2 separate regions of the Homo sapiens genome follow, and region 1 is linked to region 2. A link means that fine-mapping ties the variant in region 2 to the expression of a gene that starts in the linked region. Tissue or cell type: cerebellar hemisphere. Region 2 holds a variant in brackets; the other region holds the start of a gene. All regions are shown on one strand. Distances are between the middles of the regions.

Region 1 (2,760 bases), 47 kb before region 2:
AACCAGAACAATTTGTCATCCTACATATGTCCTAGAGGTTTTCAAAATTTTTGTGCACCAGAATCACTTGGGTGCTTGTTAAAAACGCAGGTGATTCTGTTAAACAAAAAAAAAGCAGTAATTTCAGATGCAAGTAAATCATGGATTGATCTTTGAGAAATACACTACGTAGAGGCTGAAGAGGTGTCAATCACTACTTTTAGGAACTCCTCAATCCAGACTTCTTTGTTCCTGTTCCAAAACTATAATCATTGAAAAGAAAGAAATAACATATTTTAGAAGATACAGCCAAAGTTCCTGAGCCAGAAGCAGACATTGACAAATTAGTTGATGGGGGAAAAAAACTGTAGTGTGGCCTTAGCATTTTCTCTCCTTTCAGGTCTAGGATAAATCATTTTTTTCCTTCAGTGTCACAAAGTATAACAAATAATAATGAGTGCTGTGAAAATGGATTTGATAGTAGCAACAATATAGGTACACATTGATGAGGTGTACCTATAATGAGCTTCCTGAAGGTAAACACTCATATCAGGCTTATTTTAAAGATTTCCACAGTGACTATACTTTGGCGGATCTTAGAGAATGACTTGCATAAAACAGTCAATTCAGTGCTACTTTTGCTATTTTCATACTGTAAAGTACATGGTTTAACATGACCATTTTAAAGATGTTTCTCATGAGCTCAAATGGGGTGAGCTCTTTTTCATTTTTTGAGTTTTTGTTGTGTTCCAGGCATTGTGCTATATTCTTTAAATGCATTATCTCACTTAATCCTCCCAAAAAGAGCGATACCCATTTTAAAAAGAGGCAGAGTACTTGCCCTAGATTATACAACTAGTAAGTGGTGGTGTCTGGGCCAAAATGTAGGTCTGTTCACTCAAGCAAATTTGCTTAGCACTGGAGAGAGCCAAGGTGAATTAAGGCGTGGTCCTACGCCCTGCTGTAAATGCTGTGTTCGGAGGTGTGCACAGGCTGCAATAGGAACACAAAGGAGGCTCATTTCAGGCTCTCCGTGGTTTTTAGGATAAAATGCAAATCCTTTTGCCTAACACATTATAACCAGGTCCCCCAAACTCCTCTCCCTTTATCTAGTCCCACAGGGACCCGGTCACTCTTTCTGCCACAAAGATGCCGATGCTTGGACATCTCCAGTTTCGAGGAACTCACGTAGGAGACACGCCTTCACTTCCACCTTTGCCAAACCCCGACCCCTTCACACCGCTCCCCTGCACTCTCAATCCCTGTCCGCTGCAACACATATCCCCTCATCAGCACCTTCGGTGATTAGGCCCTCCAGGCGCGGGGGATGTGGGACTACCCGGACTGAGGACTGCGCACCGGAAGTAGTGGCGGCGCTGCGTAACGTCGAGAGGAAGTGCCTGATGCCGCGGCCTGTGATTGGGAGTTGCTGGAGTCGGTGCTTCACTCTTAAGGTTCCGATCACAGACTGCGGAGTGGGTCAGGGGCTGCGAGGGCTGCCCCAAGTCCTACCGGGTTTGCACGGGCGCGCCCGGCTCCGCCCGCAAGTGCGCCTTCCTGACTTACTGCTGGGTGCGCGGGGCTGGGGGTGCGAGTACCACCCCTGAAGTCTCTTCCTGGGCGACCTCCGGGGCCTCATTCTAGGCCTCCTTAAAGAGAAGGATCTAAATTAGGAAAAGGAAGTGCCCTTATCCACGACCAAGCTCTTCCACCTGCGGAGCTCGCTTAGTCTGCACCTCAACCGTGCGGAAAGTGACTGCCCTGTTTACTGAGGAAAAACTGGGGCTCAGAAAGGTGAAGTCATTTGCCATGGGCCATGCAGCTGGGAAGTGACAGATCTGGATTCAAAGCGAGTTCTGGCTGGCGCCAGAGTCCTTGTATTTTACAGCACTGGTTCTCAAGCTTTATGTGCATTAAGAATTCCTGGGTTGAGGGTGGCGTTAGTTAACAAATTCTGGGACTCTACAAATTGAGTAGATCTGGGATGGGGCTCTGGAATCTATTTTCAACAATTGTTCCCTGGCAAATAACATATGGCTCCCCAGTGAATGGAGCAAGAAGGTGAGCAAGTCGTATCCTCTGCGGGGACTGTAGGTAATTGTGTTACGCTTTTAGGGCCTCAATTGAGAGAACATGTCAAACGGGAGCTCCTGGGATTGGAGAATTGGTATTTGATTGTCATTAACTCTTCTGGGCAGATGGCAGCCTCTGCGTCTCTCCACCTATTAAATGAAATGAATTACATGCTTATCATCTGGGGGAACTTGTTAAACACACAGATTCCTGGGCCTGGCTCAGCTCTACTGAATCAGAAGAGGTGGGAGATGGGACCTGGGAATCTATAGTCTAAGCAAGCTATTAATATAAAACGAGCTTTTACCTTTGAGAACTTGAGGTGTGAAGCTTTCTTAGGTAGAAGCATAAAGAAATAGATTACAGATGTGGAACATGTGGCTTGAATTTCCTTGTTGTTTTGGTAGCTGTACGTGCTTCTGCATTTGCTGTAGGCTAAGCTTTTACTGGTACAACTGTCAAATTAGTATTATTAGCCATTATGAGGTGGATTTATCCGTTAGCTGGAGACAGGAGTTTAATATAAGTTGAATGTTAATCTGTCTGTTGTTGATTTCCTGAGTGGCTTTGGGTGCATCATTGAACTTTACCGTCCACATACATACCTGCATTGTGTCAAATCTTACACTGCTTGTTATAAAGACAAATACCTGTATCCATCCTAAATCAGATTTTCTGAAGGTGGGCCATAGGTATTTTGAACAAACT
Region 2 (2,760 bases):
CTCACTGCAGCCTTGACCTCCCCGGGCTCAGGTGATCCTCCAACCTCAGCCTCCTGAGTAGCTGGGACTACAGGTGCACCCCACCACACCTGGCTAATTTCAGAATTTGTTGTAGACGGTCTTGCCATGTAGCCCAGCCTGGTCTGGAACTCCTGGGCTCAAGCGATCCGCCCCCCATCGGCCTCCCAGAGTGCTGGGACTACAGGCGTGAGCCACTGAGCCCGGCCAGCTTTTCACAATTTGCAGTATATATATTTTTTCTACACATTTATGTGCTTTTTAAAAGAAAAAATTACCATCTTACTGAACTAATAGTTTTGGGGCCTTTTTCTACTTAGGTACATTGGTGCCTGCCATTAATTCTTGTTCTATGACATCATCTTGAGTGGCTGCATAGTGTTATATACAGTTGTATTGTTATTTAACCAGTTCCTTTGTGTTGGATTTAGATGGTGGTTGGTGTTGATGCTGTTTTTGATATTAGTAACCCTTTTGTTGGTTTTGGAAATCACGAGAATGGAGGGAGGGAGGTAGGGAGCCCATTCGGGCTTTGACTTCATTCAGACTTCAATTCAAATAATAAAAAGAGCAGGTAACACTTTTGAAAAGCTGCAATATGTACTAGGCACTGCATTCATTGCTTTACATATAATCAGTGCCTGATTTATGAATCCTCACAGCAGCCCATAGACTAGGCACTATTTTTATCTCCATTTTACAGTTAAACGGAGGCACAGCTCTTCCACTGGTGTGGCTGGGTGCAGTCCTGTAGCTAAACCTTTGAGTACATCTCTGATTGTTTCTTAGAATAAATTCCTAAAAGTGGGGTCGCTGGCCCAGATCCGGAAGGCTATGCATATTTTAAGGCTTTGAATACATAATGGAAATGGCTTTCCAGAAAGAGTACACCAATTTATCCACCTGCCAGTGGTGTTTGAGCAGATCTGAGAAACTCCTGCCCTGCTTGAGCACTGACTGTGTGCTGGGCCCTATGCTTAGTCTTTTATACCATTTCCCTCCTCAGAGAAGAAGCTGTCCTGTGCCTGGCACAGAGTAAGCAAGAACTCAGGACATCTCAGCCAGTATGGGTGGTGGTATTATACTGTGTGTAATTTGTTGAGAAAACAAGACACACACTTG[G/A]AAAACATCAATAATAAGGTGAAAGTGGAACAAGGGGTCCTGATGATGAGTCTTAGAGCTGGCAGAATATGAGGTGGTGGCCAGGGAAGTCTGCCTGTTGGAGGAGGCACTTGGAGAATGGGCAGGAGCACCCTGTTAAGTGACAGCTGAAAGGCTGATGAGCAGGGAGGGACCCCTTGGTAGCTTATGTTGAGCTGGAGGGGAGACGGTGGGGGAGGAAGATGGGCCCACATCAGGCGTAGGAGCTGGCTTGGGCAGAGGTGAGAAGACCTGGGAGAGAGACTGCAGGAGTCCAAGTTTGAGGCTGCACATGTGGCCTGGGGGACACCTCTAGGAATGGTGAAAAGAAAAGATGTCGGATTTTCTAGTGCTGGTAACACCCCTTCTTCCCATGAGTGCTGAAACAACAGAAAAACAGACACAGGACTCAGCTACGAGGTCAGCATATCAAGGTTATTACTGATAAGGCCGGGAGACCTTGGCTTACCTCCATGACCACAGTCAGACTTCTTGATATGCCTTCACCCTATCAAGGCCTCAGGGTACCCCATCCGAGGAAACAGTCTGTGCTGCAGGCCCGGTCTCTGCCAGCCGCCAGGAGGATCGCTGCCTCCCTTGGTGAGCCTGCGAGTGGGGAGCGGAGGAGGTGGGCCTCCAGGTGTGCTTCTCAAAGGTGGATGCTGGCCCTTCCCCATGGAGGACGCAGGAGCTGGGCAGCGGGCACTCTCTGTAGACAAGCAGCTCAGAGTGGCCAGGAAAGGGCCAGATTCCCTATGCCCCCAGCTCAGCTCCTTCTCCCAAGCTGCTTATAAGTCATTCCTCCGCTCTCGGGAAAGAGAGTTAGGGAGGCTGGGAAAAGGATGGAAGCTGCCTTTCCGATATTCTTCCCTCTTGGGAATGGAGCGTTCCTCTCCTCATTGCAACACAAGGTAGGAGAGGCAGCCACTGCCCCCATGCTGGCTGTTGCTCATCCCAGCCCAATCCAAGATGCTTCAGAGGAAAGACTGCCAGCAACCAGCCAGGCAGGATGGTGCTGTGGTGGCAATTTTAGTCCAGTAGACCTGGTTCTAGTTCCAGCTCCTCCACTGACTGCTACATGGCCTTTGGCAAATTCTTAGCCTGAGTTTCCCCATCTTCTATAAAACAGAGTTGTTCAATTGAGAGAGACAAAATGTATCCGTCTCAGTACCGGCAGCTATTCTTATGAAATAGTGTGTGAATGCGAAGGAAAGAGCTTGTGTGGCCTTGATTTTTGTTGTTGTTTTTTGCTTTTGTTTTGAGACAGGGTCTTCCTTTGTTACCCAGGCTGGAGTCATTGGCACAGTCATGGCTCACTGCAGCCTTAATCTCCTAAGCTCAAATGATCCTCCTACCTCAGCCTCCTAAGTAGCTGGGACTATAGGCACATGCCATCATGCGCAGCTAATTTTTAACATTTATTTATTTATTTATTTTACTTTATTTTGAGATGGAGTTTCACTCTTTTGCCCAGACTGGAGTGAAGTGGCACGATCTTGGCCCACTGTAAACTCTGCCCCTGGGTTCAAGCAATTCTCCTCCCTCAGCGTCTTGAGTAGCTGGGATTACAGGCACCTGCCACCACGCCCGGCTCATTTTTGT

Which allele goes with the higher level. Positions count from the first base shown, and alleles are read on the strand shown. Sizes are in standard deviations (SD) of each study's normalised expression.
With allele G in place of A in region 2, the expression in cerebellar hemisphere of the gene that starts at base 1,425 in region 1 is higher (small effect, 0.32 SD a copy in GTEx).

The links. PIP is the estimated chance that this variant, and not a neighbour inherited with it, causes the effect.
Region 1: ALKBH3 starts here. The variant in region 2 is fine-mapped to the expression of ALKBH3 in cerebellar hemisphere (GTEx, PIP above 0.99).

The regions. Positions count from the first base shown.
Region 1 is chr11:43,879,407-43,882,166 of GRCh38, forward strand. It overlaps ALKBH3 (alkB homolog 3, alpha-ketoglutarate dependent dioxygenase), which reads left to right and starts at 1,425. Exons shown (of 10, transcript NM_139178.4): 1 at 1,425-1,773. It overlaps LOC105376644 (a long non-coding RNA gene), which reads right to left and starts at 1,331. Exons shown (of 3, transcript XR_001748200.2): 1 at 1,276-1,331. RefSeq lists an enhancer at 1,211-1,410.
Region 2 is chr11:43,926,821-43,929,580 of GRCh38, forward strand. It overlaps LOC124902663 (a long non-coding RNA gene), which reads right to left. Exons shown (of 3, transcript XR_007062657.1): 2 at 1,628-2,760; 3 at 231-1,538. It also overlaps a transcript of ACCSL not described here. Among named protein-coding and RNA genes, the nearest start is that of ALKBH3-AS1, 7.3 kb to the left of the region's middle. RefSeq lists an enhancer at 1,265-1,766. The variant G/A (reference allele first, on the strand shown) is at 1,141.